Linked DNA regions of Homo sapiens: region 1 is linked to region 2. The links come from fine-mapping of genetic effects on gene expression. Tissue or cell type: non-classical monocytes. Region 2 holds a variant in brackets; the other region holds the start of a gene. All regions are shown on one strand. Distances are between the middles of the regions. Region 1 holds the start of ZNF613 (zinc finger protein 613). Region 2 holds the start of ZNF649 (zinc finger protein 649).

Region 1 (4,396 bases), 23 kb before region 2:
GGGGCAAATGTATGAATGTCTGCAACTTACTTTGAAATGCACCAAAAAACAAAGCAATATTTTACAAGATGGATAAATGTGGCTGGGTGAAGTGGCTCACACCTGGAATCCCAGCACTTTAGGAGGCCAAGGAGAGAGGATCACTTGAGGTCAGGAGTTCAAGATCAGCCTGGGCAACATAGTGAGATGCCATCTCTATAAAAAGAAAAAAAGGTGGATTAATGATGAGTAGAAGGATGATATATAGATAGATATGTAATAAAAGAAACACAATAAAATGATGATAAAATCCAGATGGTAGGCAAACAGGTATTCAATTGTAAAGTTCTTTAAATCATGTTATATGTTTGAAAGTTTTTGTAACCTGGAGAACAGGGAAGTTTGTTCAGTAAGGTGACCAAAAACAATGTAAATATTTTCTAAACTAATTGCTCTTCTATGTAAGAGTAAATTAGAAGAGAACAGAAAGGTCAAAATTAAAAACACACCATTTACAATTGCAAAAAAATTAAAAACTAAGGTGCTGATGAGGGTCAGGGAGAAACATGTTTGGGTAAACATAGAATTGTAACCCATTCTTAAAAGTGATAAGTGAACTTTTTAAGTCTTAAAATTCTATCTAAATATATCCATACACTTAGTGATTCAAGTCACAGTGGTGCAGTTTTGCCTCTTGATGGTATACTATTACAGAAATCTTAAAAAAAAATTTTTAAACAAAAACATGGATGATATGTTTACTATAAGAACGTTCATAATGTAAAATTAAATACGGCAAATTATACCAATGTTTCAGCAGCTTATCTGCATTGTGAAAATCAAGCATAGAAAACTGAAATTGAAATATACAAAAATCTTATCAAAAGTCATTACTGGGGAACACATTTTGGGATAAGAGAGATGTTTTACTTGTGTCAGAACCTGAAAGAAAATATTTACGTGTGTGTATACACACATTCACACAGTAAACCTGAGGAAGAAGAACGAAAATCTTTAATAGAAACCTTATCATTTTCTTCGTTTTGTTTTTTCCTTTTTCTTTTCTCCTTTTCTTTTCTTTTTTTTTTTTTTTTGAGGCAGGGTCTCACTCTGTTGCCCAGGCTGGAGTGCAGTGCTCAATCATAGTTCACTGCAGCCTAGAACTCCCGGGGTCACGTGATCGTCCCACCTCAGCCTCCCGAGTAGCTGAGACTACAGGCGTGTGTTACCACACCCAGTTAATATTTGTATTTTTTGGAGAGACAGGCTATGTTGTTCAGGCTGATCTCCAACTTCTAGGCTCGAGCAATTCGCCCACTTTGGCCTCCCAAATGCTGGGAATATAGGCGTGAGCCACCGCGCCAGGCCACCTTACCATTTTAGATTTGATTAATCTTTGATCTTCCCCAAAGCTTTCCTATTTACCAGGATGAGAGAAAGGAGAGATGTGAGAAGTCAAATGAGATTTGTAAACCAGTCCTTGCAGAGAAACTTAAAAGGGACTGAGAGGGAATGTACCGTTGGACCTGAACACACACACCAATCAGGATGCCCTGGCTGCCAAGGCTTCAGCCTTCACAAGCTTCTCCACGACTGTCACATCTAGACCTCCCTAACATGGTCACACCCCCTTAGATTAATCCAAAAACCTGGACCACACACCTAGGTTCACATGAACCCGGGCTCCTCCTCACTGAGTCGCATATTAAATCCTGATTACAGCCTGGAGCGAAGGCTCACGCCCGTAATCCCAGCACTTTGGGAGGCCAAGGTGAGAGGATCGTTTGAGGCCAGGAGTTGGAGACCAGCCTGGGCAACATAGTGAGACCCCCGTCTCTGCAATAAACAGATAGATTAGATAGATAAATTAGATAGATAGATAGATAGATAGATAGATTAGATTAGACAGATTAGATAGATAGATAGATAGATAGATAGCGTGGTGGCGCTCACCTGTAGTCCCAGCTACTCGGGAAAGCTGAGGTGGGAAAATCACCTGAGCCCCGGGAGATGGAGGCTGCAGTGAGCCACGATTGCGCCACTGCACTCAAGCCTGTGTGACAGAGCGAGACCCTGTCTCAAAAATAAAAAATAAAACCCCGAATCCGAAGCAGACACAGTTTTCCTTGACAAAAACCACTCCTCACTCCAGTCCTCAATCACCGAGCCCTACAGAGTGACCCGCAAAGGCACCAAACCCTGATCACGGACTTCCAAGTGTTGCTCTGGACAGACTCTGACCACCGACCACTGGGATCCCTCAGGGCTGACTCCGGAGACGCCCCAACCCCAATACCCCGACTCCCACTTGCTCCCGCTTCCCCCACAAACTCCACGGCTCCGCACTAAACGGACGCCCACAGACACCCTCCTCCCCTCATCCTGACAGACAGACCCACACACAGACCTGATTTTGCGGGGAACCCACCGAGACTTCCCAGAACCTGCACTTTCCTGAATTATTCCACTTCTGGGCCCTCCCCCAGCCTCCAAGCCGGCCTACGGCGGCCGAGGAAGGTCTGAAGTTGCAGGTGTACGGAGCACGGACGACTGGGAGGTAGTAAGTTCGCGTCCTCTCGTCACGGATACTGGAGGCAGCCATCTTTGAATCCTGCACGTACGGAAGGTAAAGTGGACCTTTTCTGCCCAAGTATTCAGGGATAGCGCGGGACGGTGAAGAACTCCATATTTTGGCACCTAAATCCTGCGCCCAAGTTTCATTTATTTTCAGAGGGTCGAGCTTAGCCAAGACAAACATGGTATGGCTACGTGCACCTTAGCGGGCTGGGGAGAAAAGTCATCCGCTTTGCACAAAGAATGACGGGAATGACACAATGGGCGCGGCCATCTTAACACTTAGGTGTCCGTACAAGTGAAAACGCTTTCTCCACAGAGGAAAAAGAGCAATCGCACCCTGAGTCATATACCGCGAAAACGCATCTAGCTACATGTGGAGGACAAGAGGAAGATTTTTGAGGACCAAAAGGGTGTGGAGAGGCAATCGAGGTACGAGGATATTGTTCACCCCGTCAACGGAAAGTGAAAAAACAGCGACCCCTGGAACCTCATTTACATTTGAGGGACACGGTCACCGCCCAGTGCAGGTAAAGAGAGCAGCCACCAGCCAACCGGAAAAGGAATCCAATGCGGGAGGCGGGAATTTTCCTTAAGAGAGAAGAAGGGCCTTCCCTCTGCTGTAGGTGGAGTCAATCTTAACGTCGGGGCTTTCGGAGAACCAAGTGCCTAAAATTCTGGAAGGAATAAATAAGGCGACTCTGGGAGAATGAAAAGTTGTGCAAGCCCGGGCGCGATGGCGCACACGTGTAGTCCCAGCTACTGGGGAGACCAAGGCAGGAAGATCGCTTGAGCCCAGGAGTTCCAGGCTGCAGTGAGCTATGATCGCACCTATCAATAGCCACTGCACTACACAGCCTTGGCAACCCCTTCATGAGGAAAAAAAGAAAAAAGAAAAAAAAAAGTTGTGCAAGAAAAGTAATCATAGGATACTACCTGACTGACCTATAAATATTATTTACATAGTCATCATAACGTAAATTCTAATTCTGATCCAACCTAAATTAAGACAATTCCATTGGAAGAATGAGAAGGAAATTCCTGCATGCAGTGGAGTGTTTATATTTATAACAGAGTTTTCACGTGTCCTTCATGATACATCTATAGAAAATGCCCCAAAATGCAAACTCCATTTCAGAAACATACCGTGTTACTTAAAATATCAAATCTGTGAAGAGTGAAAAGCTTTACAGAACTATATGACTCCTTAGGAGAATTGCAAAATAAAAGCAAGAATCTTATGACTCAGGAATTCCACTCCTAGATACTTATACAACAGTAATGAAATGATATGTCCTCACAAAGACTCACAAGAATGTTCTTAGCACCTTTATGCATAATACCCTGAACAGGAAACAGTCCAAGTGTCCATCAGTACATGAATGTATAAGCAAATTGCAGTGTAATCATACCCTGGAATACTACTGAACAATAATAAAAAACAAATCATAGATGCATGCACCAACATAGATAAATCTCAACAACCTTATGAAGGGGGCCAGCCTCTCCACACCTGTGGGTATTTCTCATCTGGTGGGATGAGAGACTGAGAAAAGAAATAAGACACACTGACAAAGTATAGAGAAAGAACAGTGGGCCCAGGGGACCAGCACTCAGCATACGAAGGACTCCTGCCAGCACTGGTCTCTGAGTTTCCTCAGTATTCATTGATCACTATCTCTACCATCTCGGTGAGGGGGATGTGGCAGGACTATAGGGTAATGGTGGGGAGAGGGTCAGCAGGAAAATATGTGAACAAAGTTCTCTGTGTCATAAATAAGGAAAGGTGCTGTGCCTTGATGTGCACGTAGGCCAGATTTATGTTTGACTTTACACAAGCATC
Region 2 (4,396 bases):
CATCTCGGAGAGGGGGATGTGGCAGGACAATAGGATAATAGTGGGGAGAGTGTCAGCAGGAAAACATGTGAACAAATGTCTCTGTGTCATAAACAAGCTTAAGAAGAAGGTGCTGTGCTTTGATATGCACATACATAAACGTCTCGGTGCATTAAAGAGCAGTATTGCCGCCAGCTTGTCTCACCTCCAGCCCTAAGGCGATTTTCTCCTATCTCAGTAGATGGAACATACAATCGGGTTTTATACCGAGACATTCCATTGCCCAGGGACGAGCAGGAGACAGATGCCTTCCTCTTGTCTCAACTGCAAGAGGCCTTCCTTCCTCTTATACTAATCCTCCTCAGCACAGACCCTTTACGGGTGTCGGGCTGAGGGATGGTCAGGTCTTTCCCTTCCCACGAGGCCATATTTCAGACTATCACATGGGGAGAAACCTTGGATAATACCTGGCTTTCTGGGGCAGAGGTCCCTGTGGCCTTCCGCAGTGTATTGTGTCCCTGGGTACTTGAGATTAGAGAGTGGTGATGACTTTTAACAAGCATACTGCCTTCAAGCATTTGTTTAACAAAGCACATCCTGCATAGCCCTAAATCCATTAAACCTTGAGTCAACACAGCACACGTCTCTGTGAGAACAGGGTTGGGGGTAGGGTTACAGATTAACAGCATCTCAAGGCAGAAGAATTTTTCTTAGTACGGAACAAAATGGAGTCTCTTATGTCTACTTCTTTCTACATAGACACAGTAACAGTCTGATCTCTCTTTCTTTTCCCCACAGTGCACTGTTGTTAGTGCTCCAACCTCACAGTGCAGGGGTTGAGGTGTCAGGAGAGGGAACACATCAGTGCCATTTCACTGTCTCCTGTGTCAAAGCAAAATTAAAATGCAGACCAGAATTCAAAAACTCCTGAGCAAACAAAACCCAGTAGGCCTTAAAAACAGCCTTAACCTTGCTTAACCTGCAAACATAAGCAACAATTCACTTGAGTCATTTCTGGTAAATGCTTGTGTTAGGGAAGGACAAAACTCAATCTCAACCGATCAAAAGTAGGCAACTCACATGCTATTATGTCATTAGGGACTTTCCAAGGCAAATTTAAAAAAATGCATTTTTATAATTGTAACTAATCAAATAATTTCTTTGTTTTACTCCTTCACTCACCCTGTGAATACTTGTGTCTAATGCTTTAAGCATAGAAGCGCGAGACTTCTTTTGGTTTGATGCTTCCTAATTCATGAATTGCTGTTTGTTCAGATAAACTCTAGAAAATGCTCCTGCGCCTCAAATTTTTGCTTTCAGGAGAGTCATCCCGGTTTAATGACACAAGAACAACTGTTTCCCTTCTGTACGGCAGATCTACCAAGATGGCCGCGCCCAGAGAGCCGTGGCTCAGGGCGCGGACATGTTACCTCCTCGAAGAGAAGCCCATGTCCCATCGTCCTAGCGCGGCAGAATTGACTCGCGCCCTCGTCCGCCGCCATAGGCCAGTGCCGGGGTTTAAGGGCCAGGAAAGGAAGCATTCAGGGAATTTAGGTGTAGCCAGAAGAAAATCAGGTGAGTGTTTGGGTCTCTCCGTGGAGTAGGTTAAAGGGGTAGGGAGCTTCTGAGGAGCCTGTGGGGAGAGCTGGCGGCCTGGGCGGTGGAGCCTTTGGGTTGGGGTGCCTTTGCGGTCCGGCGTGGGAGAGTTCTTGTGGTCGGGCGTTAAAGGTCTGTCGAGTTCAGCGACTGAGACTCGGCGTCAGAGTTTGGGGTCTCTGAGGGTCACTCTGTTAGTAGGCCTCTGGATCACTGGATGGAGAACTCTAGGGGGACGCTGCCCAGCACGCCGGCTTTATCACCGACGCCATTATTATCACTCCAAATGCTGCAGTTTAAAGTCGGTGATGAAGCCGGGGTGCTGGGCAGCGTACGAGGGTGTGTGGTGTAGGTTTTGGGGTGAATCGGGGATGTGTGTTAAGTGTTTCGGGGAGGCCCAGGCATGTGGGGCTCAGAGGCTTGTAAAATCTGGTATTTTACAAGCCCAGGCCCCTGGCTGGGGTTGAGTTGTGAAACTATAACCGCCCACCCTTGCCGGCTGCCTAGACAGAGCCGACTTGTTAAGACAGGGAAATTGCAATGGAGAAAGAGCAATTCATGCAGAGCCGGCTGTGCGGGGAGACCGGAGTTTTATTATTACTCAAATCAGTGATAAAAGAAAAATTGAAGCCGAATTAAATTTACAGGAGTTTCCTTGAGCAATGAACGATTCGCGAATTGGGCAGCCCCCAGAATCACAGCAGATTAACAGAGACTCCAGGGGTGCCTCGTGGTCAGAACAAATTTATAGACAAAAAAGGTAAAGTGACATACAGGAATCGGAAGCGAGGTCCAGAAACAGTGAGATTGGTTACCATTCGGCGTTTGCCTTATTTGAACGCAGTTGGAACATTCAGCA[G/T]TCTATGAGTATGGCCGCTGGGACTGGCCACCACTCAGCTATTGTTACAGGTGCATACGATTAAGTTCGGTTTTCAATTTTGTCTGTTAAGCTAGGTTGCAGTTTATCCACAAGGACTCAAATATAGAAGTATGGAGTCGTTCTCAGGCAATATTTAGTTTGCTTAAGCATCAGTCTCCTTGAGCATTTGGGGATCAAAGTTTCCTCCTATCCCCCAGACGGAATCTAGCTCTGTTGTCCAGTCTGGAGTGCAGTGGTGCGATCTCAGCTCACTGCAACCTCCGCCTCCTGGGTTCTAGCGACTGTCCTGCCTCAGCCTCCCGAGTGGCTGGGATTACAGGCGCCCGCCACCACGCCCGGCTAATTTTTGTATTTTTAGTAGAGACAGGCTTTCACCACGTTGGCCAGGCTGGTCTTGAACTCCTGACCTCAGGTGATCTGCCCGCCTCGGCCTTCCAAAGTGCTGGGATTATAGGCATGAGCCATCGCGCCTAGCTATGATTGTTACGATTTATAAGAAATGTATAATCGATCTTTGTCCTGTTTCCTGGCACATGTCTCCCAAAAGCCTTGGAACCTCTTCAGTAAACAGTGCCTTTTTGTGTGGCATTGAGATGGCTGGTGACTGGGGGCTTCTGGCTGGCCTTAGGACGGGGGAGGCTGGTTGCCAGGGCAACTAACCATGTCATTTGAGGGTTGGAAATTTTAGCTCTGCCTGGCAACAGGGAAGTTGAAGGTTGAGTTGATCACCAGTGGTTAGTGTTTTAATCAAGTATGCCCACATAATGAAACCAGCGTAAAAACTCAAAAGGACTGGTGAACTTCTGGGGAACTTACAGATTCTTGAGCATGTGGAGGTGCCTGAGGGTGGTGAACTGAGTCTCTAATAAGCTTCCGTGGAGGGCATGGAAGTCCCACGCCCCTTGCTACAAACCTTGCTCTGTGCTATCCCTTCCATCTGCCTCTTCATCTGTATCCTTCGTAATATCCTTTATTCCTTTTCCCATTTGCCCTGAGAATACTCACCTTTGGTGCTTGCAGCTGGAGCATTTACCCCGAGATAACTTTGCCATGAACGATCTCACTTTTATTATTTTCACATCGCTCTAGTAGGTCGCCTTGGGAAACAAAAGACATCATTCTACTTATAGCATTCTGTTTTTAGTAGTGGTATTTCCATTTACAAAATGTAGTAGTTCTCGATCACTGAAAATGTCAAATCCTAGAAAACGTAGCATTCCTACATGTGATGTTAACATCATTCTCAAACAGTTCTTGGCTGAAGACTCACTGGATGGATCCGATTTTTACCAAATCGAGAATTCTGATGATTCCAAATCGAGAATTCTGATGATTCAGATGATTCTGATGTTAGTTCTGTTTAGAAATAACTCCTAGAACAGCTTTTATATTTTATTTTCACATTGAAAATCAGATTTACTGCAGCCTCAAAGAGCATGTTTATGTAAAATGAAATAAGCGCTGGCAGTGAGCTGCACTTCGTTTTTCTAGACAGGAAAAGAGTTGAAATAAACCAGTAAATGTTAAGTGCTTTCCTGAGTTCTGTGAGCCATCCAGCAAATTAATCGAACCTGAGGAGGAGGCCGTGTGAATCCTGATTTATAGCTGGTCCATCAGAGGTACAGGTGACAACCTGCTGCTTGCAACTTGCGTCTGAAGTTGGGGGCAGGCTTGAACTGAGCCCTTAATCTGTGGTGTCTGACACTATATCTAGATACACAGTCTCAGACTGAATTAAATTATAGGATGCTGTCTTAGCCTTGTTGGTGCTGCTATAACAAGATAGCTGAGACTGGATAATTTATAAACAACAGAAATTTATTTGTTATAGTTCTGGAGACTGAGAAGTCTAAGATCGAAGCACCAGCAGGTTTGGTGTCTGGTGAGGGCCTGATTTCTGCTTTCAATATGGTGTTTTGTCGCTATTTCTTTGGAGGTGAA

Evidence for each region. PIP is the estimated chance that this variant, and not a neighbour inherited with it, causes the effect. A credible set is the group of variants that fine-mapping cannot tell apart.
Region 1: it holds the start of ZNF613, and the variant in region 2 is the best candidate, but not a certain one, in a credible set for the expression of ZNF613 in non-classical monocytes (Schmiedel 2018, PIP 0.63).

The regions. Positions count from the first base shown.
Region 1 is chr19:51,925,531-51,929,926 of GRCh38, reverse strand. ZNF613 (zinc finger protein 613) reads right to left here and starts at 2,455. Exons shown (of 6, transcript NM_001031721.4): 1 at 2,387-2,455; 2 at 31-195. RefSeq lists enhancers at 2,517-2,816, 2,672-3,435.
Region 2 is chr19:51,902,072-51,906,467 of GRCh38, reverse strand. It overlaps ZNF649 (zinc finger protein 649), which reads left to right and starts at 1,451. Exons shown (of 5, transcript NM_023074.4): 1 at 1,451-1,554. RefSeq lists enhancers at 185-809, 1,300-1,419, 1,138-1,682, 2,773-3,318. The variant G/T (reference allele first, on the strand shown) is at 2,435.